Linked DNA regions of Homo sapiens. The protein of the gene in region 1 interacts with the protein of each later gene in a pairwise test. Each region holds a gene or a part of one and is shown in the gene's direction. Other genes may lie near its edges.

Region 1 (7,024 bases):
CAGGATAATTTCACCCGGAGAAATGTATACATGTGCCATGTTGGTGTGCTGCACCCATTAACTCATCATTTAACATTAGGTATAACTCCTAATGCTATCCCTCCCCACTCCCCCCACCCCACAACAGGCCCCGGTGTGTGACGTTCCCCTTCCTGTGTCCATGTGTTCTCATTGTTCAATTCCCACCTAGGAGTGAGAACATGCGGTGTTTGGTTTTTTGTCCTTGCGATAGTTTGCTGAGAATGATGGTTTCCAGCTTCATCCATGTCCCTACAAAGGACACGAACTCATCCTTTTTTATGGCTGCATAGTATTCCATGGTGTATATGTGCCACATTTTCTTAATCCAGTCTAGCATTGTTGGACATTTGGCTTGGTTCCAAGTCTTTGCTATTGTGAATAGTGCCGCAATAAACATATGTGTGCATGTGTTTTTATAGAAGCATGTTTTATAATCCTTTGAGTATATACCCAGTAATGGGATGGCTGGGTCAAATGGTATTTCTAGTTCTAGATCCCTGAGGAATCGCCACACTGACTTCCACAATGGTTGAGCTAGTTTACAGTCCAACCAACAGTGTAAAAGTGTTCCTATTTCTCCACATCCTCTCCAGCACCTGTTGTTTGCTGACTTTTTAATGATCGCCATTCTAACTGGTGTGAGATGGTATCTCATTGTGGTTTTGATTTGCATTTCTCTGATGGCCAGTGATGATGAGCATTTTTTCATGTGTCTTTTGGCTGCATAAATGTCTTGTTTTGAGAAGTGTCTGTTCATATCCTTCGCCCACTTTTTGATGGAGTTGTTTGTTTTTTTCTTGTAAATTTGTTTGAGTTCATGTAGATTCTGGATATTAGCCCTTTGTCAGATGAGTAGATTGCAAAAATTTTCTCCCATTCTGTAGGTTGCCTGTTCGCTCTGATGGTAGTTTCTTTTGCTGTGCAGAAACTCTTTAGTTTAATGAGATCCCTTTGTCAATTTTGGCTTTTGTTGCCGTTGCTTTTGGTGTTTTAGACATGAAGTCCTTGCCCATGCCTATGTCCTGAATGATATTGCCTAGGTTTTCTTCTAGGGTTTTTATGGTTTTAGGTCTAACATTTAAGTCTTTAATCCATCTTGAATTAATTTTTGTATAAGGTGTAAGGAAGGGATCCAGTTTCAGCTTTCTGCGTGTGGCTAGCCAGTTTTCCCAGCACCATTTATTAAACAGGGAATCATTTCCCCATTTCTTGTTTTTGTCAGGTTTGTCAAAGATCAGATAGTTGTAGATATGCGGCATTATTTCTGAGGGCTCTGTTCTGTTCCATTGGTCTATATCTCTGTTTTGGTACCAGTACCATGCTGTTTTGGTTACTGTAGCCTTGTAGTATAGTTTGAAGTCAGGTAGCGTGATGTCTCCAGCTTTGTTCTTTTGGCTTAGGATTGACTTGGCAATGTGGGCTCTTTTTTGGTTCCATATGAACTTTAAAGTAGTTTTTTCCAATTCTGTGAAGAAAGTCATTGGTAGCTTGATGGGGATGGCATTGAATCTATAAATTACCTTGGGCAGTATGGCCATTTTCATGATATTGATTCTTCCTACCCATGAGCATGGAATGTTCTTCCATTTGTTTGTATCCTCTTTTGTTTCATTGAGCAGTGGTTTGTAGTTCTCCTTGAAGAAGTCCTTCACATCCCTTGTAAGTTGGATTCCTAGGTATTTTATTCTCTTTGAAGCAATTGTGAATGGGAGTTCACTCATGATTTGGCTCTCTGTTTGTCTGTTATTGGTGTGTAAGAATGCTTGTGATTTTTGCACATTGATTTTGTATCCCGAGACTTTGCTGAAGTTGCCTATCAGCTTAAGGAGATTTTGGGCTGAGACAATGGGGTTTTCTAGATATACAATCATGTCATCTGCAAACAGGGACAATTTGACTTCCTCTTTTCCTAATTGAATGCCCTTTATTTCTTTCTCCTGCCTGATTGCCCTGGCAAGAACTTCCAACGCTATGTTGAATAGGAGTGGTGAGAGAGGGCATCCCTGTCTTGTGCCAGTTTTCAAAGGGAATGCTTCCAGTTTTTGCCCATTCAGTATGATATTGGCTGTGGGTTTGTCATAGATAGCTCTTATTATTTTGAGATACGTGGCAAGGACCTTCTTGCTGTGTTATCCCATGACAGAAGGCAGAAGGCAGAAGGGCAAGAGGGCGTGTGCGAGAGAGGTGAAGGAAGGAGGCTGAACTCTACTACTACCCTCAATACTCACACCAATTTACCTTCTTCTGGTCACCAAAATATGTGAGTTTTTTTCCCTACACCAAGCAATTCTCCACTTCTTTATGAGAACAAACTTGGCATCCTACAGTTTAACTCAATTCTGACACTATCTCCTTGGAGATACTATCAGATCCCCCAGGTTAAGGGCTCAGTCCCATAAGACTGCCCCTACTTCAGACACCAGTTGTAAGTGGTGGGTCCCCAGGTTGCCCACAACTTTTGTCCAACTTGGTGACACATGGAAGGTTTCCACAACTCCCTCCTCAGTTTCAATAATTTGCTAGAACAGCTTGCAAAACTCAGGGAAACACTTATTTACAATGACTAGTTTATTATAAAGGATCCAACTCAAGAATGGCCAGACGGAATTGATGCACAGGGCAAGATATGGGGGAAGAGACATGGAGTTCCCATGCCCTCTCTGGGCACACCACCCTCCAGGTACCTCCATGTGTTCACCAACCCAGAAGCTCTCTGAACCCTGTCCTTTTGGGTTTCTATGGAGGCTTCCTTACACAGGCATGATGGATTAAAGAAACTATGGGCCATTTGTGGTTAACTCAATCTCCCGTCTCTCTCCTCTCCTGGAACTCAAGGGGTAGGGCTGAATATTCCAACCCTCAAATCACATGGTTGTTTCCCCAGACAAGCAGCCCCCCATCCTTGGAGGCTTTCTAAAGTCACCTCATTAACATAAACTCGGGTGTGGCTAAAAGGGGTCGGTTATGGTTAAGAAAAGATGCTCTTTTCACCTTTACTGCTCTCATCGCTCAGGAAATTCCAAGGGTTTTAAGAGCCCTGTGCCAGAAATGGGGATAAGAACTCTCTCTCTCTCTCTCTCTATATATATATATATGTATATATACACACACACACATACACACACATATATATACACACGTATATGTAATTATATATCTATATATAATTATAAATCACAATATCACAACATATTATGTTCTTGGGAATACAATTTGTACAAAGGGGCCTTGTAAATTACTGCTTTGTTTGGTGAAAATGATCCTTTAATCATTACAGTCTATGTGGTCATAATTGTGAGAGAACAGAATAAGCTACCCCCAGATATGCCTCTTTGGCATAGGGATTATTGAGGCGAAGGCAATTAAGAAGCAGCAGATGCAGGAAGGTTCTCTGTCCTCTCTCTATTTGCCTAAAAGCAAGATCTAAATTTACAAAGGTCTTTCTATCAAGGAGAATAAAGGTTAACCACTGAGAACTTTAGACCCTTATAGGCCTGGAGATGGTACCAGAGGAAGCTGCGTAACAAAACTTACTGACTAGTTTCTTTCTATCCTTCATTTCCTATTTATTTGTCTACCCACAATTTGGTGGCCCTCAAGATGCAAAGTCTTTTTTCTTCATCTTGTCCCTTCTCTAAAATTGTATAGTTCTTTGTTGAAGGTGGCTATATAAGCAGGGAGTTCCAAGCCACTCCTTTGAGAATTATTTATTCCCTGGTGTCTCCTACATACACTTAAGAGGTACATATTAATCCACTCCTGTTTGTTTTTCTCTTATGAATCTGTCTTGGGTTACAAGGATCCTAGCTGAGAACTTAGAAGGGCAGAGGGAAAATTATTTTTTCCTCTCTTATAATATCCATCTAAGGAATCACTTACCCAGGTCAAGATGGAGAAAAGGAGATTTCCTTGTACTTCCTCCTCCCAGTCAATAATCGCACTACCCGAGAAGAAACCTCGATTCTGACTTCTACAACCAATTCATTTGCATATTATTGAGTTTCATATAAATGGAGCCATTTGTTTGATTTCTTTCACTCAATAATAATGTCTGTGAAATTATTCCATGTTGTTTGGGTATCAGTAGTTTTCAAAATTGTTATTGCTATGTAATATTTAACTATATAAAAAAACTATAATTTGTTTGTTTATTCTTCTGTTGATTGATGTATTTGAGTTGTTACCAGCCCTTGGCTATGTATGGGAGGAAAAGTAATTTTTTTCTCAACCCTCATAAGTTCTTAGCTGGAACAGACTCCTGTAACCCAAGACACATTAACGAGAGAAAACCAAGCAGAAGCGTATTAACATGTCTATTTCATATGGACATGGGAGAGATCCAGGGATTAAATAATTCTCAAAGAGGTAGCTTTGAATTCCAGCTTCAATACATCTCCAACAATGAACAGTACATTTTTAGAGAAGTAGCAAGACAATGGAAAAGGGTTTTGAGTCTCCAGCAGGAGCAACTTGTGGGAAAGTAAGTCAATGTCATCTTTGGTGATCAAACTTTATCCTTCTTGTTAGTGAGGAGACAAGGGACAGCTTTACCTTTGTCAATTTATGTCTTGCTTTTAGGCAAATAGAGGGAGGGTGGAGAACTTTTCTTGTACCCACTTCTTCTCAATTACATTTGGCTCAAAATAATCCTTATGCCAAAGTGGCATATTTTGGGATGGTGTATACTGCTACCCTCCAATATAGAGGTAAAAATGTATTGAACTGACTATTTCACTGTATGCATTTATTGTATGTAAGCTACACCTCAACATACAATTTTCAAATAATAGTTTGCAAATATTTAGTATGCTATGTGGTTGTTATTTTGATAGTACATAATCCAAAATCCCTCCACACCTGAATTTCATAAGGTTTCATCATATGTGCAGTAACGTTGTTTTTCTACATTCCTGACCAGAAAATCATTTGACTCCTGGGGACACAGATTTGCTGCCACAGAGGCTGATGGACAACCAGGCGGAGAGAGAAAGTGAGGCTGGTGTTGGTTTGCAAAGGTAATCCAAAGGGTGTAGTCCCCAGGGAGAGGGCTGATTCTGTTGAAATGCTGCAGGCATCCTCACGATAAGGAATACATGTGCTCTGATAGGATTAGCTGTTAAGTGGGCCTTATCTTACCGCTGGTCTCCATTATGCATATGAAAATCTGTTCCCCTAGGGAAAAAAATACTTCATGGAGCTAAAGTAAATATTTTGGAGAGCAAGTCAAGATTAAGTCAGGCGCATGGCTTTGGGCAATAGGACTCCAAAGACAAAAATTGCTCCACTCTGGGGCCTCATCTCTGCAACTGTCTTGAAGACAGGAACTCCATTTCTTCAGCTCATATATCACCAAGGAAGGAAGCCATTTGGTGTTAACAAATTAATGAATTTAAGCCCAGTTGTCTGTAAATCAGCAGACGTAGCACCACCGGCCCCCTGCACAATGTGTGCAAGTAACAAATATTTGCTGAGTGAATTAGACGAACTCTATGTGTAATATGTCATGGAACTGGACTGAAATGTTATCCAATGCCAGTAGACATCACCAGCTGATACAGGATTCACTGGAGCAGAGGTGTTCACATGTGAGACGCTTGGTTTAATTAAGAAACACATGAAGTCAAGCTTCTGTTAGTTATCAACCATGCTAAAACCAAAAACTTTACAGTTCATACACAGTGGCGTTGTTGATCTTTGCAGCTACATATCTATTTGCTGTTTCTTTTTGTCTAGCATACCTTGAGGAAACACAGAGATCAGGGTGGGCTAACCTATGGCATCTTTTATGTCTGGGGTTCTTTGTCAGGGCCACCCCGCTTGCCTTCATCCCACCCCTTCCCCATTGCAAGCCCTGGTGACCTTCTGCTCTGTTAACTGATTTACACCTGTGGATTAATAGATAATTGTGCCTAAATTTATTAATTCATTAACACTTAAAACATATGCTCGATGGTATATTTAGTTTCTAATCTTTCCCACTGAGGAATTGTGTGCGTGTGTGTGTGGAAAGAGAGATTTAAAGATAAATACATTTATGGACATACATATACTTCAATGAGGAGGCCCTGACATCAACTGACAGGTGAGAGGAAAGGCAGAAAGCACCAAGTTTAGGACTCAGAGCCCACCCAATGCTCCATCTTTACCTTGCATGTTCCTTTGGGAGTGTCCTCTTTTCTCTCTGGGCTTGAGGCCCCCCACTGAATCATAAAGGAGGTGGCCCAGATCCTCTCCAGGCCTCCCTCCAGCTCTGATGTTCTTCTTTGGGCCAGGGCATCTGTTATCACCAGGCCTCCTCGGCTCACCCTGAAGGAAATGCACAAATGGCACCTTGCATGAGAAAATGCCCCAAGCAGCAGGCTTTGCTCTCACCCTGATGCAGCTCTGCCTTGAAGGTCAAAGCCAACTGGCCTGGCAAAGATCCCTTCGTACTTCATCCTGTAAAATGTTGGAGGAAGAGGGGCCTAGGTCTCTTTGTCCCAAACTTCTTCCATGAAGGACTAATCCCATCTGCTTGAAGGGTCAAGTAAAGCTGACCAAGAGCAAGGAGAGCATTCAGGACATGAATAATAATTTATCTCAACTCTCAATGTGCAACTCCTGATAGAAGCAAAGACACACCCCAGAGTAACCAGATTCGAGGTCATTAGAGTGGAGGATGTATGATGCAATATGGCCCCCTCCACCCTCCTACTCACTTCTACACATCTGGGACGCTCATCCCCTGCCCACCACCTTGTCTTCTCTTTCTCCTACTTTTCCCAGAACTCTCCCGCCATTGTTCCCAAGTTCTTTATCTTGAGTGGGGTTTTAACATTTCCCCACTGCCCCTCCTCTGCAGCAGTGCTGTGCTTTCTCTGAACAAGGCTGAAAACATACCTCAGGACTTAATTTTCCTTCCCCATTCCTTGACCAAGGCTGGGGTGATTCACATTTGTCCTTCCACATGCCCCTCTTATGTGTTTCTTTTTTCCATGGAACCAGTAGTTTTCAGCGAAGGCTG
Region 2 (7,564 bases), on another chromosome or scaffold:
CCATAAAGGCTGGGGCACTTATTTGCTCCTTTCAACAAAAGATGAAAATAATAGATATGATCAGCATTGTGTCATCACTTCAGACTCTTGGCTTAAGACAGCATAAGACAAAAGAAAAAATAGAAAGAAGGTGTTAAAAGGAGAGTCAAACTGCACTCTTTAGGGAAAATTTTCATCTTACCACAGGGATGTAGTTTAGCACATGTAACTGAGCCAGCAATTAGGGCCATTTTAACATTTAGATTTTCTTTAATCAATTCCTTTTACAAGAGGTGATCTCATACGTAAACTGCAACATGGTTTGTTTGATATATCTCATGGACATCACATATTTATTAGAGACCCATAGGGGCAGGGTATTTCCCCAGAGAAAATTCTATTAGAAGATAAAATTGATTTTGCAAATTTTATTTTATATAGTTACCTATAAGAGAAAATATTTTTCTGTTTATTGTTTTTCTTATGTTACATCACTACTTGTTCATTTCATTCAGGTGCTAATCTTCTGCTTTGTAGCCTCTATTTTCCTTTCTCCCATCTGTCAACCTCAGATACTTTTATATTCCCATTACCACAGTCACACTTTAATTTCTGGTCCTGGCTACCTCTTCCCCCAAGTCTCATTTCCTGCCTCTCTTCTCTGAATGTGGCTAGATTTAAATGGAGGACTTCATTGGATAGATAGCCCTGAGCTCTTGAGCTTTTGTGACCATAAATATGACAACTTTTTTTTTTTTTTTTTGAGATGGAGTCTAGCTCTGTCGCCCAGGCTGGAGTGCAATGGCACGATCTCGGCTCACTGCAACCTCTGACTCCCAGGTTCAAGCGTTGCTCCTGCCTCAGCCTCCTGAGTAGCTGGGATTACAGGCATGCGCCACCATGCCCAGCTAATTTTTGTATTTTTAGTGGAGACAGGGTTTCACCATGTTAGCCAGGAGGGTCTCGATCTCCTGACATCATGATCCACCCGCCTCAGCCTCCCAAAGTGCTGGGATTACAAGCATGAGCCACCATACCCGGCCGACCTTTTTTTTTTTTTATCTTGCTCATTTTAATAACAAGTTATGATATAACTCTGGGAAGGTAAAAAAATTTCATAAATATGTAGATTGTCTTTCATGCCTTAGAATATGAAATCAATTCATGCTAATGGGTGTACTCTTTAAGATCTATGACTTTAGTGTAATTTTTAATTAATTTATTTTTGTTGTGTATATTCTCAGTGATGAGGCAGAAAGCTATACATCTCCCCCTTGTGGTTCCTGCTAACGTCTGCCTTTGGCATGTCCATTTTTTTCCCAGTTCCAGTAAGTCCCAATAAAATGCAGCTAAAATAATCTTTTTTATTTATTTATTTTTTAGGGACAGAGTCTCACTCTGTTGCCCAGGCGGGGGTGCAAGCAGCATGATCATAGCTCATTACAGCCTCAAACTCCTAGGCTCAAGAGATCTTCCCATCTCAGCCTCCTGAGTAGCTAGGACTGCAGGTGCACACCACCACACTAGGCTAATTTAAAAATTTTTTGAGGTCATCACTATGTTGCCCAAGCTGGTCTTGAACTCCTGGCTTCAAGCTACCCTCCTGCCTTGGCGTCCCAAAAGTGCTGGGATTACAGGTGTGAGCCACCACACCCAGCCTAAAATAATTTTAAACCACAACTCTGGCAACACTCTCCTGCTCAAACCTTCAGTTGCTCCCTACCACATGCAGAATAAAATCCAAACTCCTTGGCATGGTTCACCTGAAATTTCTATACAAAACAAAACAAAACTCTGCTTTTTGAAATTCTAAACATGCTTTAAGGCCCAAATTCCTCTTTCCTAATCCTCCCCCTGGGTGTAGTCTCATCATTTTGTGTTCTTATACCCCAATCTGCCAGTAATTATTAGTATTTGTGCTCATTTTATCTCTCAGACTAAATTGTAGCTGGGGAGTAGCAAAGGATTAAAAGTCAGTATTAGGCTTTAAAAACAGAGAAACCATTTAAAAATGGATGAAGAGAAAGAATTGGGCCAGGTGCAGTGGCTCACACCTGTAATCCCAGCACTTTGGAAGGCCGAGGCAGGTGGATCACTTGAGACCAGGAGTTCGAGACCACCCTGGCCAACATGGTGAAACCTCATCTCTACTAAAACTACAAAAAATTAGCCGGTTGTGGTGGTGTGCCCCGGTAGTCCCAGCTACTTGGGAGGCTGAGGCATGAGAATCGCTTGAACCTGGGAGGCAGAGGTTGCAGTGAGCCGAGACTATGCCAGTGCACTCCAGCCGAGGTGACACAGTGAGACTGCCTTAAAAGAGAGAGAGAGAAGAAAAAAAGACTAGCCCTGTCCAATAGGAATATGAGAGCTACATGTGTAATTTTTAATTTTCTAGTAGTCACATTAAAAAAGCAGGTGAAATTAATTTAATAATACATTTTTATTTAACCCAGTACGTCAAAAATTATTTCAACGTAATCATATAAATTTATTAATGAGATTCTTATATATTTTAATACTAAATCTTCCAAATCTGGTGTGCAGAATGTACTCACAGCACAATCTCAGTTCAACTTGCCATATTTAAAGTGCTTTATAGCCATAAGTGGCTAGTGCTACTGTATTAGAAAGAAATTGAGATAAGGATAGCAACAGAGTCCTAGCCCTGGCTGACTACTGAGTAGCTTTGTTACCATAGACAAGACCTTTAACCACTCACTTCTGTGGTTTCCTTATCTGAAAAGAGGAGACATATTTTTCTTACCAACCACATAGGATTGTAATAGCATAAAATTAGAAACTGAAATGAGGACACTTTTGAAAGGTTGAAAATGTCATACAAATGGGAGGTATTATAATTATTCTAAGAATAAGGTAAACTCTGATGGCTCTAGTTCTTGCAGTGTTTCTTAGCACACCTATGATTTTTAATAACAGTTGCAGATACTTACTAGAAGTTGAAATACTAAAGGTTACAACTTCAGTGCTTCCGTGGAAAAATAATTCCCATATTAGCAAACCCATTTAAACTGGTGTGCTTTGAAATGGTTATTAATCTCTTCTTTAAGGAATCTGGATCCCAGAGTCTCCCAGGCTCCCCAATCTTTCTTCCCTGACATGACAGCAATAAAGCAGGGCTGAGGGAGGATGTTGATGTTCCCATTGGGGTAGAGGAGTGTGATAAAGACGCATTGTTCAGAAACAGAGACAAACTTCGGAGATTCGTCTGCAAGTTAATTAGGTCGTTGCGAATAAATAAGATGCTTTCAATACAGAGAGAAAGGATGAGGCGGGGCAACAAGCACAAGCATTTTGAGACCCACAGGATTGGGAAATGATGCAGGAACAACTGACCTGGCCATTTTTCTTTCTTTCTTTCTTTTCTTGGAAGCACATATGTTTATTGGTTTTTTAATCTGTGAACCAATAGGTCATTTATAAATGGATGTGCAAATCTGAAATCAAAATATCTGCAGTCAATTCAATTAGATAATTTTTGAAATCTATTTATTTTTAATATACTTTAAGTTCTAGGGTACATGTGCACAACGTGCAGATTTGTTACCTATGTATAGATATGCCATGTTGGTGTGCTGCACACATTAACTCGTCATTTACATTAAGTATATCTCCTAATGCTATCCCTCCCCCCTCCCCCCACCCCACGACAGGCCCCGGTGTGTGGTGTTCCCCACCCTGTGTCCAAGTGTTCTCATTGTTCAATTCCCACCTATGAGTGAGAACATGCGGTGTTTGGTTTTCTGTCCTTGCGATAGTTTGCTCAGAATGACGGTTTCCAGCTTCATCCGTGTCCCTACAAAGGACATGAACTCATCCTTTTTTATGGCTGCATAGTATTCCATGGTATATATGTGCCACATTTTCTTAATCCAGTCTATCATTGATGGACATTTGCATTGGTTCCAAGTCTTTGGTATTCTGAATAGTGCCACAATAAACATACATGTGCATGTGTCTTTATAGCAGCATGATTTATAATCCTTTGGGTATATACCCAGTAATGGGATGGCTGATGACCTGGCCATTTTTCTATTTACATAGTGCTTGCCCGCCACTGAGGTGCTTCTGTGACACCTGAGAGAGATAGAAATACGTTCCTCGTTGCTATGTCCTCCAGAGGACTCTGGAATGACCAATTATTACTAATATTTTAAGTGTTTTTTTAGGAGATTTTCTGCAGCACTCTGAGTGTCTCTTCCCAAACACTTCGGTTACTGTTTATTCACCTGCTGAGATCTGGTCTCTTATTCACTCTCATTGCCTTAAGAAATGGTACAGAAATGTATTCATTAACATTTCAGATTTGTATATGCGGTAGCGAGAAATAATTCCCTTTCTTGTGTGTCGTGATTTGCCTTTCTTGTCAGCCTAAGCTCAGGAAGGTGTCTGTGAGAACTTCGCTCAGCCCAAGATCCCTTTCCCTTCCCGTCACATCTGTTAGCGCACAAGATTTCTTCGTCTGTCTCCAAAGGTTTCTGAAGCCCCACCCTTTGCCCACGCACGGTGCCAAGGAGACTGTGCCCTGCCTTGACAACAGTTGCTAAGGGGCGGAGACTTCGGCTCGGTTCCCGAGACGGAATACCCAGGAGTCGAGTACTTGGGCGCATGCGGCAACCGTATCTCAGTTCTCGCGAGGTTTCGTCTTCCCGGAAGCGTTGGAGGACATTCCCTGTTGACTGCGTCGCGATGTGTGGCGACTGTGTGGAGAAGGAATATCCCAACCGGGTGAGCGACTGGGCGCTCCCTTGGCCCGCGGGCGGCCCCCGAGGTGTCTCATATCCAAGGCTGGCCTTCCCAGAGAGGCCGTACGTGGGGCGGACTCGGCCGCACTGCCGGTCCCGGTGACCCAGTAGCGGTATTTAGGCACACCAGGGATGGCCTGTGGCGGTCTGCACCTCTGGTACCCGCCCTGGCGGCTGACCTCAGTTGTAGTGGCCGTTCTCTTGAGCTCCAAGGAGCAACAGAGGAACCCCACCACCACCACAACCCCCGTCGACAACCGAGGGACTCCCCCACCCCCACTTCCGGTCTCATCCTCAAGCTCGATTTGATGAAGTACAATTTTCTTACCGAATTCTAGCGCTGGAGGGGACCTCTGTGGTCATCTGTTCTAACACTTTTGCAGATGAAGAAACCGATGCCCAGAGAGGGGAAATCACTTGCCCAAGTTCACATTCTAGTTGCATGGATGAGAGCCAGGACTAGAATTTAGGTTTCCTGCCTGTTACCGCCTTCTGAATCTCAGTTACTTTCAGGTTCAGGAGTTTGCAAAGCTTGTCTATTCTCATTCATTCAAGGCATCCTTGTTGAACATTTATATATGTGTAGTTAGATTACTTTGCTAGGCCAGAAAGGGATTATTTCTCCTCTCTTTGAGACAGGGTGCTGCTGTTGCCCAGGCTGGTCTCAAATTCCTGGGATCAAGTGATCCTCCCGCCTTGGCCTCCGAAAGTGCTGGGATTACTGGCATGAGCCACCACGTCCAGCTGGATTATTTGTTTCAGAGAAGAAATTAAAAGGCACCTTTGGTGCTGCCTAACAGCTTACAGTTTTGGGGAGTATGTGACTAACAAAAAATGAGTAGCTCAGTTCAGAAATGCTATTCAAGTTTAGGGAAAGGGGAGGGCAATAGGGGATAGTGCTGTTCTCCCCTGAGAAAAGGTGGACATCATCTAAGACTTGAAGGACAGTTGTAATTAGGGTAGAAAAGAAGGTGAGGAGCTGGAGGATGGGGGAAAATTACAGAAATGGAATTTGTGCATTGGTTGGGAAGGAGGGAGAAAGTCTCTGTAGTTCCTTATGTCTTAGTATCTTATGGGTAATACTTAGGCTTTTGAGTAGCATGTATAACAGTATGAATTCTCCTGTAGTACAACTACTTTGAAAAAGCGGGTGAGCCTTATAAAATACAGACATGACCCAGTGATTCCCATTCTAGAAAAATGCATGTGTATATGCTTCTGAAGACTTTTATAAATAAGTGTTCATAACAGCATTATTTTTGTAGTAGATTGGAAAAGTAACTGATACATTCATTAGAATGGAACACCATTAATGAATGAGGAATGGAAGTGAATGAATTAGAGCAGTAGTTCTCTACCAGGAGTGATTTTTGGCTCTTAGGAGACATTTGGCAATATCCAGAGACATTTTTTGGGTGTCAAAAGGGGAAGTACTACTGACTGCTAATGGGTGATGCAAGGGATGCCGCTAAACATCCAGCAATACATGGGACAGCCACCACAACAAAGTATCACTCCCAATGTCAATAGTGTGGAGGTAGAGAAACCCTGAATTATAGCCGTGAAACCAAACTAGAATTACACAGCAGCCTGAAAAGTCTTACAAATAGTGTTGATGAAAGAACACATAAAGTATAATTCAAAAAGAGGCAAACCAAAATATATTATTCAAGGATGTACCTGGGTGGTAAAACTGTAAGGAACGTATACAATTACTGTTAAGTCGAGATAGTGGTTACTCCTAAGGGATTAGGGTGTGATCAAGAAGGGTCACATGAGAAAAAGTCTTCCCGGGTGCAAGCAGTGTTTTATTTCTTGATTTGGGTGGTGGTTCTACAGATGTACACTTTATAATCATTTCTTGTTCGCTACATTTATGTTTCATGTACTTTACTATGTACTATTTCATTTTTTTAAAGTTTAAAAAGATTTTTATGAAACCAGTAATAAACATGAGCTATTATGAGACCATGAGGGAGGAGTTTGCAGTAGAGAATATTAAAGAGATTAGGTTGGATTCTTTTTTGTTGTTGTTTTTGTTTTTGAGATGGAGTCTTGCTCTGTCGCCCAGGTTGGAGTGCAGTGGCATGATCTCGGCTCACTGCAAGCTCCGCCTCACTGGTTCATGCCATTCTCCTGCCTCAGCCTCCCGAGTAGCTCGGACTGCAGGTGCCCACCACCATGCCCAGCTAATTTTTTTGTATTTTTAGTAGAGACAGGGTTTCGCCTTGTTAGCCAGGATGGTCTCGATCTCCTGACCTCGTGATCCACCTGCCTCGGCCTCCCAAAGTGCTAGGATTACAGGCGTGAGCCACCGCGCCGGGCCTTAGGTTGGATTCTTAAGAGTGGAGTTATTGTAAAACTTAAAAGTCATATTGAGAAGTTTAGAGTTTACATTTTAGGCATTGGGCCACCATCAAAATTTTAATAGAGAAATGATTCTGAAATCTGTTATTTAGGAAAATGAATCTTATGGCTGAATGTTGAAATGGTGGGGTAGAGGGTGTGTAAAGACAGAACTCCACAGGGCATTTGAGGAGCCATGGCAACAGTGGTGTAGGCATGAGATAATGAAGACCTTATTTCAAAGAAAGAATTAGGTTGGGCACGGTTCTCACACCTGTAATCCCAGCACTTTGGGAGGCCAAGGCAGGTGGATCACTTGAGCCCAGGAGTTTGAGACCAGTCTCAAACATGGCAAAACCCTGTCTCTACAAAAAATACAAATAGTCTGGGCACGGTGGCTCACGCCTATAATCCCAGCACTTTGGGAGGCCAAGGCTGGCAGATCACCTGAGGTCAGGAGTTCGAGACCAGCTTGG
Region 3 (7,024 bases), on another chromosome or scaffold:
ACACCTTGGGATAGAGGGGATAGGGTGTGTCAGGAATGGGTGGGGTGGGAGCAGGGGAGGTCTTCATATAAGGTGTTAAGGGGAACCCTCTGGTGACAACACATGTGATCTGAGACCTGAAGTCTCAGATGAGGGAGGAAGCCATCATGGATCTGGTGCAAGAGTATTCTGGGCAGAGAAAGCAGCAAGCACAAAGGACCAAGGCAGCAGAATGCCAGGTGAGCAGGGGGCTTAGCAAACCAGAGAGTAGGAGATGGGTCGGATCATGTAGGGTCTCATTGGCCTTTGGAAGTACTTTAAAATACCCTGACTGAGATGGAGAGCCACTTGGCTGTATACCTGCCATTTACTGCCCCAGATTCACTTGGCCCTTTTCTAGCCTGCTCTGTAGATGTGCCCCAGGAGGGGGCCCTGCACTGACAGGTTGCCTTGCTTTATGGCTGCGGGCCATGGGAAGTATTGCTGGGGGTGACCGAGAAGGAGAAGAATGAGACCACTGTATTTCTTCCCTCCTGCAGGCTTGTGTGGGGTGGGGTTTCCTTAGACTTAAGGTCACATTTCCTGTCATGTGCCTTCTCTGCGGAGCTCTTTGTCTCCCTCCCTCTCCATCCTTCACACCTTCAGGTCTATGAGGAGTTCAGGTACCCCTGATTTACCAGCTCCAGATACTGCATTTTCTCTTGTGGTTTCCCTACACCTGCCCACATCTTTGTAAATAGTTCCTTTATAAACTCTCCTCAAATCACCCACTTTGTGCCATCTGTTTCCTGCCAGGACTTAGACTGATCCATGATCAGAGAGTTTTGAGCAGGGGAGTGACACAGTCTGACTAGCATTTTAACAGGCTCATTTAGGTTACTGTCAAGAGTAGATGGTGGGGAGTGAGGGTGGATACAGGGAAACCAGTTAGGAGGCTATTGCAGTATCCTGGGAGAGAGGTGACGGTGGCTTAGCTCACAGTGACGGTAGTGGAGGTAATGAGAAATGGTCAGCTCTGGATATTTTTATGAAGGTCTCTACCTTGCTAAGCTGTTTTGTTAATGCAGATGCAGGGAGGGCCTTTCATGACACTAGAGAACAAGACATGGTTGTATTGTTAGTGCCTGCCTTCCTTATTGTGCCATCTGGAATCATCCCATTGCAGACACTCTGATTCAGGCCAGTAGGTTAATACTGATAGTCTCAGAGGTAGCAGCCTTGCCAAAAACAGGTGTTTACAAAAGATACTACTGTTTTTCTTTGAGTTTGTCTTTGAACAGAGGCAAACGCGTCCTCCACTTTAAATGGCATGGTGTCATTGAACCATTGGCATGGTTCATTGTCAATGAAGTGACTTGAACTCTGAGGGGAATATAAGAGAATTATTAGTCTTGATCCCTGCCCTCAAAATTCTTTTATCTTAGAGAGATAAAAAAGAATATGCTGTAAGGCCGAGTGCGGTGGCTCACTCCTGTAATCCCAGCACTTTGGGAGGCTGAGGCTGGCGGATCACTGGAGGTCAGGAGTTTGAGACCAGCCTAGCCAACATGGTGAAACCTCATCTCTACTAAAAAAATACAAAAATTAGCTAGGCGTGGTGGTGTGCACCTGTAATACCAGCTACTCAGGACACTGAGGCAGGTGAATCTCTTTAACCTGGGAGGCGGAGGTTGCAGTGAGCCGAGATTGCACCATTGCACTCAAGCCTGGGTGACAGAGCAAGACTCCATCTCAAAAAAGAAAAAAATAAGAAGAATATGCTATAGGCAGTCACAGAGTGCTAAATTATAACTGCTTTGCACGAGGATTTTGGGGAGTTGAAAAGCCATCTGTGTGGGCTGAGGTGGTCAGGATGACTTCATGGAGAACGTGGAACTGGGTGGGCTGTAAAAAATAGAGTTTGGGGCAGCCATTCAAGGAGGGAGAGCTGTTTTGAGGGAAGACTCAGGCTTGACTGGGGGCGTTAAGATGGCTTACCAGGAACGGAGGGTGCAGGTTGGATGTGGTAGGAAATGAGGTGAGCTGGGCGGGTGGGCCCCTATCAGGGTATTAAGAGGCAGGTGATGTGCTGGCTTCAGGTTCGGGCAGTGGGCCACCACATATCCTAAGGAGGGACCAGCGGAACAGAATCCTGACCTGCTGTTGACTTATTTCAGCTTATAGGATCCAAAATATTAGTAAATGGAGGTGGAACAAATCACTAAATATGATAAAACTTCCCAACTTTTTATGCCTCTGATAGAAGGGACTGGAGCTCTGCTTGGTTAGGTGGTCAGTAGGCTAGCTTTCTGAATCCATTTTATTTTATTGAAATTCAGCATATACCATATTGCCCAAGTGTAAAGTAATCCTGCATATCAAAATTTCCCCATTAAAAAGTCCAAAAGGTTGTTTTTGGTCAAGTTGAAAATACATGTACTTTTAGGTATATAAGTGAAAAATACCTGCTTACAAAATTTACATTTAAATTTGGGTCCATATACCTACTTAAAATCACCTACTTTATAAAGTAACACTAATTTAGAAATGCTGGTTTTCCTCCTCTTCTTATTTATAAAATGTTTCTTTTCAGACTCTTCACATGCATCTTTGACTTCACTATTTTTATCATCACTGGAGCCACTTTTTGAGTCAGCCAATGTGGATTTCCGGACCACATGTTCAGTTCTTGAGATACATCGTTTTTGAATATGAATAAGGTGTTACCACTGAACAGTTTATTCCAAGTTACAAGTATCCACTTGCATAACATTAGACTTTTTTTTTAAGAAAGGGTCTCACTTTGTCGCCCAGGCTGGAGTGCGGTGATGCAATCACCACTCACTGTAGCCTTGACCTCACAGGCCTGCCTTGGCCTACCAAAGTGTTGGGATTACAGACGTGAGCCTAGAATTTTTTTTTTGCAGTGTTTCCAGTTGGTATATATTTGTGGTCACTGCAACTTAACCACTTTATTACTTTTTCAAATGATTTCTATTTTTTTTTAAAGACAGGGTCTCACTCTGTTTCCCAGGCTGGAGTGCAGTGGCATGATCATGGCTCACTGTAGCAACTTTCCAGGCTCAAGTGATCCTTCCACCTCAGCCTCTTGACTAGCTGGAACTACTGGCGTGCGCTACCATGTTCGGCTACTTTTTATATTTTTTTGTAGAGACAGGGTTTCCCTGTGTTGCCCAGGCTGGTCCCGAACTCGAGCTATCCGCCCACCTTGGACTCCCAAAGTACAGGCATGAGCCACCGCGCCCAGCTAAAATGATCTTTAAAACGTTGGTCTACTGGCCAGGCATGGTGACTGATGCCTGTAATCCTGGCACTTTGGAAGGCCAAGTGGGTGGATAGCTTGAGCCCACAAATTCGAGACAGCCTGGGCAACAGGGTGAGACTCCATCTCTAAAAAAAGTAAAAAATGAATAAACAAAATAAAAAGCTGGCCTTACAATGGCAGTTTACACATGGAAGTGTGAGTTTATATCTCCAGGGATAATTACTAAATTTGTGTTTAATTTATCTTGTTTCACTGATTACCATTAGCCAAAGCAGCCTTAACTGAGGTTGTTTTAGGGTATTGTGTCATCCCCAGCTGGTACTTTGTATTCAAAATAAGGAAATTGCAAAACTTCCTACAGCAAGAGGTACTTTGTAAGTATTTGAATATAAAGTGACTTGTATTTTCTGAGAGAGAATTTTTTTTGAAAAGTCTTGCCTTATATTTCATATATTAAATGACTCTTCTACTGCAGCTTCAATGACATGAATCTTAGGCAGCAAATCTACTTTCTGAAACATTCTGTCTCTGGGAGAGGAGGGAGATATAGGAAGCAGAGAAGTGATAGTGCCTGGTATGAAAGTTGGTGCCTCATGAGATTGGCTTTAGATAGAAGCTGTGAAAGAGAAAGTGCCAAATGCATTAGTTGTTGTTTACCACTTACTGAATGGAAACTATTCTCTGCTTTTATTGATTGGATTTCTTTTTTTTTTTCTTTTTTTATTTTTATTTTTTTTGAGACAGAGTTTCGCTCTTGTCGCCCAGGCTGGAGTGCAGTGGTGCGATCTCCACTCACCGTAACCTCCGCCTCCTGGGTTCAAGCGATTCTCCTGCCTCAGGCTCCCAAGTACCTGGGATTACAGGCATGTGCTACCACACCCGGCTAATTTTTGTATTTTAGTAGAGGTGGGGTTTTACCATGTTGACCAGGCTGGTCTCAAACTCCTGACCTCAAATGATCCACCCGCTTCCACCTCCCAAAGTGCTGGGATTACAGGCGTGAGGTACCATGCCTGGCCTAGTGATTGGATTTCTATTGATTAAATGAAAAACTCCATGAAATACCTTTTAAACAGAGCTGTCCAGAATGCAGGCATTTGGTTAGCTCTTCATTTATTTATTGCCATGGCACCTAAGTGTTGGGGACCCTAGTACAGTTACTTGATCCCTGGCCCCTAGAGTCTAACACAATCTCTCCATTACTGAACAATACAAACTAATATACATATAGTTATGTATCACTTAACAGTAGAAATACATTGTCAGTAGGAAATTTCCTTGTCATGTGAACATCATAGAGTGTACTTAACACAAATGTAGATGGCATAGCCTACTACACACCTAGGCTATATGGTATAGCTTGTTGCTCCTAGGCTACAGGCTACAAACCTACACAGTATGTTACTGTACTAAATACTGCAGGCAATTGGAACACAATGGTAAATATTTTTGTATCTAAACATATGTAAATATAGAAAAGGTAAAGTAAAAATATGTTATAAAAGATAAAAAATGATAGACCTATCTAGGGAACTTAGCATGAATGGAGCTTGTGGGCCTGGAAGTTGCTCTGGGTGAGTGAGTGAATGAGTGGTGAATGAATGTGAAGCCCTAGGATATGAGTGTACACTACTGTAGACTTTATAAACACTGTACACTTGTTACTGAGCAGACATTATGAAAAATAAAAATAAACACGGTATGCTTAAGCTACACTAAATTTATTCATACGCTTTTTTCTTTCAATAATAAATTAAACCTAGCTTACTGTAAATTATTTACTTCATGAACTTAAAAAATTTTTTTACAGCTTTTTGACCCTTTTGTAATAACAGTTTAAAACACAAGCACATTGTACTGCTGTACAAAAATATTTTCTGTATATTTTTATTCTGTAAGCTGTTTTCTACTTTAAATTTTTTAACTTTCTTTTTACCTTTTAAACTTCTTTGTTAAAAACCAAGACACAAACGCACACATTAGCCTGGACCTAGACAGGGTCAGGATCATCAGTGTCACTGCCTTCCATCTCCACATTTCATCCCACTGGAAGGCCTTCGGGGACAGTGATAGGCATGGAGCTGTCATCTCCTAGGATAACAGTGCGTTCTTCAGGAATTCCTCCTGAAGGACCTGCCTCAAGCTGTTTTATAGTTAATTTTTTAAATAAGTAGAGTTACACTCTAAAATAATAATATATAGTATAGTAAACATGTGAATTAGTAATGTAGTTGTTTATTATCATTATCAAGTGTTATGTACTGTACATAATTGTATGTGTTATACTTTTATAACACTGACAGTGCAGTAGGTTTATTTACACCAGCATCACCACAGGCATGTGAGTAATGCTTTGTGCTACAACATCATGAAAGCTGTGTTACTAGGCTGTAGGGATTTTTCAGCTCCATCATAGTCTTAACGGGACTGCCGTGGAATATGGGGTACGTTCTTGACCAAAACATCCTTATGTGGCACATTACTATATTAGTTTATATCATATATGTGTGTATAGTTTATAAGTTGATACATACTTAGTTTATATTATATATTTTAAAGATATATGTGTATATTATATATGTATATATTTTATATATATACATGTGTGCATATAAGTGTATGTATGTATATGTACGTATGTATGTATGTATGTATGTATAAAGCCTGACCAGCAAACTTGAAAACATTCTGTACACAGAAACACCTAGCCTGGGGCTGGGTGCAATGGCTCATATCTGTAATCTCTGCACTTTGGGAGGCTGAGGCACGCGAATCTCCTGAGGTTGAGACCAGCCTGGCCAACTTGGTCAAACCCTATCTCTACTAAAAATACAAAAATTAGCCAGGCCTGGTGGCAGGCACCTGTAGTCCCAGCTACTCAGGAGGCTGAGGCAGGAGAATCGCTTGAACCTGAGAGGTGGAGGTTGCAGTGAGCTGAGATCATGCTATTGCACTCCAGCCTGCATGACAAGAGCAAAACTCTGTCTCAAAAAAAAAAAAAAAAAGAAAAAAGAAAAGAAACAACCAAGCCTGGGCTGGGCACCGTGGCTCATGCCCGTGATCCCAGCACTTTGGGAGGCTGAGGCAGGAGGACTGCTTGAAGCCAGGAATTTGAGACCAGCCTGTGCAACATGGTGAGGCCCATCTCTATTATAAGAAAGAAAGAAAGACAGAGAGGGGAGAGAAAGTAAGAAAGAAAAGAAAAGAAACATCTAGCCTGTGCCCTGTCAGGAGCAGGGGTAAACTCAACTCTTGGGTTCCCTTTTTGCCATATCGTGAGTGATCAGTTGCCTCATGATTAGAGAAGGTGAGAGAGGTACTGTTAGGCTTAACATTTGTTAGGTTATACATTAAATAATGGGAGAGCTGGCCTTGGAACCTAACAGTTAGGTATAACATTGTGTTGATGGGAAAACAAATAAGGTCTAAAAACCAATGAACTTTGAGAACACAGCTTCTGCGTATGTTGTGGCCTGCCTATCTAAGTAGGTGTAGGGGATGAGGTATCACAAAACTAAGCACTTTGAAATCCTTTTCCTTTATTTTTCTAAGAAATTTATGGTTAACAAAAGTATAATAATGTAATTAAGAGCCATTTTTCTATAACTGAGAATTAACATTTGCTAACATCTTTTTTTTTTTTTTTTTTTTTGCTTCTGGTTATTTGTTTAAAGGAAAAGCAATTAGAAATATAGCCAAAGCCTCCTTTAACCCTATCCCCAGTTCAGTGTGCCTGCCACCCTTCCCAGAAGCAGCCCTTATCATAAGTTGTGTGTGCAT
Region 4 (8,005 bases), on another chromosome or scaffold:
AATTCCCACTGATCTGGGGGAAAATATAACTAGAATGCCATTTTTCCTAAGTTCCTTTGTTTGGAAGTTTTTAAAAGAGTTAAAACAAGCTTCACGGTTTATTAGATATTATTTTCTGTAGTGTTTGAAAATGTTATGGGGTAAAAAAAGGGCATGTGTTTTTAATGCCCTGAACATTTTCTTTTTCAAACAAAAGTCATCCTTCTTGTGTCTCGGTCCCCGTTGTTCTTCTTCCCATTCTGCCCCTTTGCTCAGCTTCATCTATAAAAATCATTTGTGTAATCTCTATTGGCCCCACGCTGTACATTCAGGATGCCTTATGTAGTTCCAGGCCTCCAGGATTATATTTCTTATAACACCAATCACTCTTCATTTTCCTTTGGATGTTATTTTCTTTGGGCAAAATTACTTTTCCTTTGTGTAAAAATGTTTTAAGAAAATATTTTCCATATCTGCAAAAAGCATGTAGTTGATGCACTAGTTTTACAGTTCTTAAAGCAACTCCTCAAATATTCAGACTTGAGGGGGAATTAAACAACACTTTTTGTATGGAGGAAAGCATACCAAAGTAGGTTTCTGAAGCTTCTGGGATTGCAATTTTTAAAATTCTTTGCCTTTTCTACAAAACTAAACTTGTTTTATCTAATCTTATTTGCATTATCATATCTTTCAGAGGTTTTAAGATATAGTGTCATAATCCTAAAGAAAAACATTTGCCTTGTATTTTATTCTAGTTCCTTGTTTGACTAAGTCACAAGGACACCATTGTTTAAATTTGCATGCCTCATAAAAATATATATTTGTGTAAATTATACTTACAAAGCATCTCCAGATATATCTCATTAACCACTACACAAATTATAGGTTACAAAAAGGTTACAGTCAGAGAGGCAGAACTACTTCTTAGGAAAGTATGAGATATGGGAAGCTTGTACAATATAATCCTTCCCAAACTTCACCCTATAATTTTTATCTAAGTGAAAATTGGTTAAAATGAACATTAGGGTAGTTTTTAGCTTGGATAAATCCTGTTGGGAAAAAAAAACTATATCCATCTATTCTTTGAATATTTATTGAGCATCTACTACATCAGTCTGAATGCTATGTCCACATATGCATTTGAAGCATGAATGAGAAAAGTGGGAGACTCCTTTGGTAAAGCAGGGAGAAGGAATGCAGGCTAATTCTGAGCTCTGCGCTCTTTTAGTCTCTCCTATCAGCTGACTGAGGTACCTATTTCTTTTAAAATGTTCCCTGCCTCTGATTCACTACCTAGCCATCTACTGCCCTCAATCACCAGACACCACGTAAGTCCTGAGGATAGATTTGTTTCAAGAATAAGACAAAAAGTATTTCAATGGTGATCTACAGAAAAACCATTTTAATTTCTGTGATAAGAAAAAAAAAACCGGAAATGTGGCACAAGTATGTTTGTTCTGTACTTCTATAGTAGAAAATTTATATACTTTGCACATGGCAGAACAGGACAGGCTTATCTAAACAATAAGGGATAGTGAGTTGATTAGGTGATTGGAAACAGGCTTCAGCTTTGCAACTGCACATCAGTGGGCCTTGTATGTTCAAAGCATTCCGCATCTAAAGAAGCAAACGATGCTTTCCATCTGTGATAACAAGGAAATGCTAAAGTTCCAATTTCCTTGACATTTTATTGCATTTACTTTTATCTAAAATGAGTATATAACATTATCTTATATAAAAGGAAAGCATGGTAGACGAGACATATCTTGAAAATCTTCTCTCTACCAGACATCCAGAAATGCTAAAAAAAAATATGTAACAACCCCATTTAAATGCATAGGCAAGCTTGCCAAAACTAAGAGAAATCAAGAAAAAAACAGAGGGAATCCTAAATCAGAGTGATAAACTGGCATTTAAAGTTTAGCTGAGTTCAGCATTTGCTAATCTCAGTAACCTAGAGATCTGGCTTTTAAGATCTGTTGCAAGCCAGGAAACAAAATCAAAGGCTGTCCTAATATGAGCCGGGGGCTCTTGAACTGCTATACCTTCAGTGAAACAGCAGACAGAAAAAAAACAAGTCACCTACAAAAATTGATGACAGGAACATGTCTATTTCAGCATAAAACCAGGTCTGTAATTTAAATTTACCCTACCTGTGTGGTCCAGGAGACCCAAGCTAAGAAAATAACAAAGCAGTCTTGTGTTAGAGAAGTGCCTGGGCTGCCTGACAGAGCCAGTGCAAATCCTCTTCAAAGGGACGTGCCCTTAACCCCATCCTTAGAGAATTTCACAGATCAAACAATGTGAAAGTACAAAAGAGCTAATAGACTCATCTCAGTGCAAATTAAACAACTGTGGAGTGTCTCCTTTTTTTTTTCCGGGAAAAGAACACTTTCCTATGTTAATGTTACCCCAAATACACTGGTGGAAACAATAAGATTTGAATGAATTCCCCAGAATTTAGTCAGGAAGGACAAGACAATCCACCAAGTGCTCAGAAGAAAATAGAAACCAAGTAGGACCACTGGTTTTTTCAATTACATGCTGGAGATCTGAAACCTGAGAGCACTGCCGACTTTCTGGAAGGGCCAAGAGAATGGATTTAAAGCAGCTACCAAAAGGGAACTAAGAATGATTGGGAGTTAGTGACTAAACTTTATAGCATAACAGGACCATGATTATAATTAAAGACATCTTTAAAGCAAATCATCTGAATAAATGCACACAGAATTGGTAACTAACTTTAATTGCTACTGAGGTTTATTTTATGCTAACAATAGTGTTCAATGCTCAGTAATCTCTTCCTAATTTTTGTTGTCGGTATATTTTGGGTTCACACAAGTCAGAAACCAAAGTTAGATTGTTTCTAATTGGCAGCAAACCAGAGGGGACGGGAGACTGGTCAAGTCTCTGAGTCGTCCACTCCAAGATGCGGACAATGAGTGTATGAAGACAGACTGAGAATGCGCTGCAAAGAAGCTTGGAAGAAAATGAAGGCAGAGAGGACAGACCTGAAAGGCTAAGAGGGACAGATCAGCGTCCATGGAAAGCAGGAGCAGAAGCCAGTCTTCTTCCAAACACTGGCACAAACCACTGCCTACTGGATACATTTCACCAGACAATTCACCCCAGTGTCCAAGAGTTTATCTTGCTTCTAGAATATATTGAAAAGAGCCACCCTCTGAACAAATGGCAAACACTATATAGTATAAATAGGATGCACTGAAAATAGTAGGCTTATTTCTTAAGCTGTCATCACGAACATTAACCAGTAATTATATTTCTCCACTTTTTGTAGAAGACATAAATGGCAAATTCTGAATTTATAATTTCTAATACTTCATTTTTCTGCTCTTGTAAAGTTCATTTTGAACTTTCAACATAAAAATATTAAAGATTTTTAATTGTGCACATTTGAACTTGTGTTACTTTGGACTTACATTGGCTGAAATTGAAATATAGTAAAAGTGCTCTAGAGTAAGCAGATCAGTTCATCAGAAGGACAGCCTTTCAATGGAAAGGGCATTCCCAAGCTGCACCAACGAAAGCATAATCCTGTTACCTGCCCTAACCTGACAGCTCTGAATTAGTCTGATCCACCTATGTGCCGTACAAAGCATTATATTGCTATGATTTCATAAACTGAACTTGAACTACACTTTTTCAGAGAAACAAAACCATGTTTAGAAATCTGCCACAAATATCTACACATTGCTCTTGAATTCCTCCAGGAATTTCCACCTACTCGTGCTGTTACTCTTCACTCTATGATTTATTTGTTTTTCAGTCCCTGTCGATACTTAAGTTTTACTCTGTAGGGAGATTCTCATGTTTGACTCCATTAAACAAGCTTTGAAACTGACACTCGCACAGGGTGTTACTTCCAGAATCTTCCTGCCAGCTCCTTGCATCCACACCATGAGAAAGAGCAAACATTCCAAATCCCAAAAAAATGAATTATTTGGGGTGAGGAAAAGTCTTGACTATGACACTGAAGATTTCCTGAAGAGATCCAGCATCCAAAATGTCCTGAGTGGGGAGGAAATCGCACACCTAGCACCCAGAGAAAATGAGTGCTATCCACAAACAACCCAGATCCTCCCAAGCTGAGGCTAACCTGCCCTTCACTTCCTACATTATTGCTACATCTACGCAGCTTCTGACTTTCCAAAGTTTCCTTTCCTTTTCTAGTCCCAAACTTATCTCTCAGGTTTGAGAAATTCAATTTTCTTGGGTTTGAATCTCAAAATTATAAAAGACAAGTAAGGTTAATCTTCTATCTCATTGGGCCCCTAAATATTTTAAGAAACACTCCATCAACCACATTTTGATCTTCTTTACTGCTGTTTTATTCTAGCATTTCTTTACTCCTACCTCTCTGTTTCTCTCTCTCTCTCTCCCCCCAAACCCCCCAACTCCCCCACCCCTCCCCACACACACACACAATTGGAGTAAATCCAGGACAAGGGCATTCACAATCTTACCATATTCTGTATTCATTAGACCTTATCTTAAGCACTGTGTTCAATTCAGATTTTGAAGGCATGTTAACAAACTGTAGAACAACGGAGTCCAGAACTGCTGTAGAGGACCAGTTGAAGGAACTAGAGAGGTATAACTAGAAAAGATACTTTTTTAGATCCTTCAGTTGTTAAAAGTCCCTAGTAATCTATTACAAACAGATTGATTTTAATAGTTCTCAACCATTTGCTAACATGTGTTTGCAGTGATGTCCTATGTGTTTGTACTCAGTTCTCTGTCTTTTTTAAAAGGGAATTTTACTTTAGACTATACATTTTCTAAAACTAGAAAAATTATTTTGGAGAAAAAGATTTGAGTATTACTTTGAAGATTTCATGAAGCTGCTGCTTCCAATCATCTGATCACTTCAGATGGTCTGATAATGTTAGATAAAACCTCTTTATCAGTAATGCACTGGAGTCCTACAGCACTACTTTCCATATTCAACAAAACCTCTCTTTGCATAGATACGTGTGTGTAAAAACAGAACATTCATACTGAGGCCAGAGTGCCATCGAAGGTAATTATAGAGACAGTAAAATCCTTTTACTCTGGGAAAAATAAAATGCTGGGTGTCTCACAAAATTTCAGAACCTGATTTCAAACGGATCATAACAAAGAGGAGATCAAATTTAGCATGGTGGACTGCTCGACAGGATATATTTGTAAGTATGAGATTCTATAAAATAGTTGATAAATACAAGACTATTGGCTTGCTATAAATCACTAGCAGATGCTGATTTCAATGGTAGAACTTCTGGGAGTGTTAACAGAGGTTTTTCTAAGAAAAAAAGACAAACTAACAAACACATATTCTTTTGCCTGGCTTTCTATATTTAAAACAAAACTTAGAGTCACTCCTTATATAAATAAATCTTCTAAGTTGGGCAACAGAGGAAATGCTACAGTTTTAAAGTATATTATTTCATTTTATGTTTTTGTGTATATTTTCATTTTAAATGTTTTTCATTTTATATGTTTAGATAAAAACATATTATAAAATCAGACATAGCTGAATTATTTGTTTCAAAAATCATGCATTACCAAATTATTAGTTCCATCCTTTGTTAACTGTACTGAAGCCAGGTGTGGATTATTATAAGGTTTATCTGAAACATTGTTAATCTTGATTTTGTAGAATTTTTTTATTCTTTTATGTTATGCTTAAGCACAACTATGCACAAATTTCTTGAATTTTTTAAAGGACAAGAAATTTGTGTGCTGTGGTCAACAAAAGCTCACTAAAATATAAATTGCTCCAAATTTTACTAAATTTTATGTAACATGCTATATCATAAAATAAAGAAACATATTTAAATGCAGATATATGTAAACAGACAGAATTGCTTTAAGAAAATTTATTTATTTTCATAATACTTTAAGATTTCATTTAAATAATGGAGGAAACAAATCTAATTCTGGCATACTACTAATACAACTCAATCCATTACCAATGCATTTATAATCACTCTGAGAATTAGATTCTATCGGTGAAATGTATTTCTTTCAAATAATTATCAGGAGAAAACAGTGGAGGCAAAATCATCGTGGAGACCTAAACTTGTTCTAAACACTCTATGTTTCGATTGTAAAAGTACACACTAGTTTTACCAAGAGGGTATTGAAAAACAAAAAAGGAAAGCAAATTAATACACAATATTAAGATAAATATAGATTATTTAAATAAAAAGTAATGGAAAATTACAAATTAAAACAGTAAAGAAATTTTTATAATAAGCCATGATATTAACACAATTTTAGATAAAGAGTTAATAAATAAAAATGGGAATAACCATAATCCAGCATTTCCGAGGTGGAAAAAGTATTTACTTAAAACTTAAGAGCATTTACAGTAATCTTTGCCAAATATGCATTCTCCAGGAAGCACACAATAATCTTTTTGTTTTTGTTTGGTTTTGTTATTATTTTATTTTTAGGTCAATGGAATGTTTCCACATATTATACCACCAACATGAGAAAAAAATGATCATTGTTTATTTGAAGCTTGGTGAGTTTATCCACAATTTAAATCAGTTCTACGTCATGCCAATTTAGATCACTGTTTCACTGGGAATTCTCTTTTTGCCAAAGTAGATTTGTAGTTCTATAAAATATTTAAAGTTATTTTTTATTTTTATCCATATTGACTACTTGAACTCTAATTTTAAGGGTACAACTAAAGATGCCCTTGGTTGGATTTAACTAACAAAATAAATTTATCAATAGGATGTTTTAATCAAATCCTTATCCTAAAGAACTTTACTTTTGTAAAAAATTAGAACATTCCCTTTATGGAATTACCAAGGATATTTCTTAGAAGTTCTCAATTGTAAATGTGAGAGGATTTCATTCTGCCACTCTATATTGGTGCTATTAAACTGTCGATTGAGATGTATTATTTAATGATAAATATTGTTGAATGTAGGATTGTAGATACTTCTTTTTAAACCAATGGTTATTTTGCAAATTCTTTGTCCTCAGACTGTGAATTATATTTTCTTATTTTATCAGATGATATTCTAACGCTGCCTTTTCTCTTCTCATTTTAGAGGTATGAGAATTTTAATTTCTACTTCTGAGCATCTGCCTTCCATCTTCCAAAATTACTTTGGAATATTTTGTCATTATTTTTCCCCTTGGTTAATCTCCTTTTTCCTTCAGTTTAAGCCGTACATGTTCCTTTACTATAATATTATTAGTGTTTGGGTTGGAAGAGATAATAAACTCAGGTGGTCAATCTGACCTTTTGTACCTGAAGCTGGGTTAAGTATTTTTTAATTTATCTCTTTGTTTCAATGTAGAGAGTGTTATAAGGATGGGGGTGGGGGGTTCTGTGATATTCCAACAAAATAGTGGTACATGGTACGTGTGAATCCAGTAGTAATCAATAGAGAGAAACACAAACATGTGGATGGACTTTCAGTCCCAGAAATCTTAGAATACAGGCGGGAAGGCACCAGGCTCCAGGCACAGGAGCAGAACTCTAGTCACTGGAACAGCGTCCAGTCTCCAGTTCCATTTCCTAAAGGACAGGAATACCAGAGAACTTCTTATAGTCTATTTATTCTATGCATAACAACTCTTAGGGTCTATTTATTCTATGCATAACACATGTCATACACAATTCTGTCACTAAATATTTTCTGCAATTTAATCATTGATGCTTTTATGACATTATATTCTATTTGTATTCCATAATTTAATAAATCTGTAAATGTTTGACTTAGAATGCTAACCAACATATAAACAACTACTTATATGTAATCATCAAATAACATTCGAATGTAACAATTTAGGAAACTTAAAGTCTAGTAGGAGTAGATAAATCAGAAATATAAATAACATTATATCTATATATATTGCTTCTTTTTCAATGTCACCTAACTAATAAGTTGCTTGGACCAAAGAACCCTCACTGAATCAGTCATGTAGCTGAGCACAGGGCTACTATTAGTGTACACAGAGTCTTTGCTGGAATTATTAAAAAGTAGCCTTTTCACCACAT

The links.
Region 2: the proteins of APOL6 (region 1) and CHURC1-FNTB interact in binary tests that used the Homo sapiens proteins (3 or more experiments, as listed by UniProt).
Region 3: the proteins of APOL6 (region 1) and FNTB interact in binary tests that used the Homo sapiens proteins (3 or more experiments, as listed by UniProt).
Region 4: the proteins of APOL6 (region 1) and RGS13 interact in binary tests that used the Homo sapiens proteins (3 or more experiments, as listed by UniProt).

The regions. Positions count from the first base shown.
Region 1 is NC_000022.11:35,651,440-35,658,463, forward strand, and holds part of APOL6 (apolipoprotein L6), read left to right. Parts: intron 1-2,164; exon of another isoform or gene 2,165-2,281; intron 2,282-4,939; 5' UTR 4,940-4,986; coding exon 4,987-5,036; intron 5,037-7,024. UniProt on the Homo sapiens protein: May affect the movement of lipids in the cytoplasm or allow the binding of lipids to organelles.
Region 2 is NC_000014.9:64,909,810-64,917,373, forward strand, and holds the start of CHURC1-FNTB (CHURC1-FNTB protein), read left to right. Parts: upstream 1-4,551; 5' UTR 4,552-4,605; coding exon 4,606-4,725; intron 4,726-7,564. Other genes in the region: CHURC1 (protein Churchill), read left to right, coding at 4,687-4,725. UniProt on the Homo sapiens protein: Essential subunit of the farnesyltransferase complex. Catalyzes the transfer of a farnesyl moiety from farnesyl diphosphate to a cysteine at the fourth position from the C-terminus of several proteins having the C-terminal sequence Cys-aliphatic-aliphatic-X.
Region 3 is NC_000014.9:64,989,892-64,996,915, forward strand, and holds part of FNTB (protein farnesyltransferase subunit beta), read left to right. Parts: intron 1-7,024. UniProt on the Homo sapiens protein: Essential subunit of the farnesyltransferase complex. Catalyzes the transfer of a farnesyl moiety from farnesyl diphosphate to a cysteine at the fourth position from the C-terminus of several proteins having the C-terminal sequence Cys-aliphatic-aliphatic-X.
Region 4 is NC_000001.11:192,631,153-192,639,157, forward strand, and holds the start of RGS13 (regulator of G-protein signaling 13), read left to right. Parts: upstream 1-4,994; 5' UTR 4,995-5,165; intron 5,166-6,437; 5' UTR 6,438-6,508; intron 6,509-7,011; 5' UTR 7,012-7,051; intron 7,052-8,005. UniProt on the Homo sapiens protein: Inhibits signal transduction by increasing the GTPase activity of G protein alpha subunits thereby driving them into their inactive GDP-bound form. Binds to both G(i)-alpha and G(q)-alpha.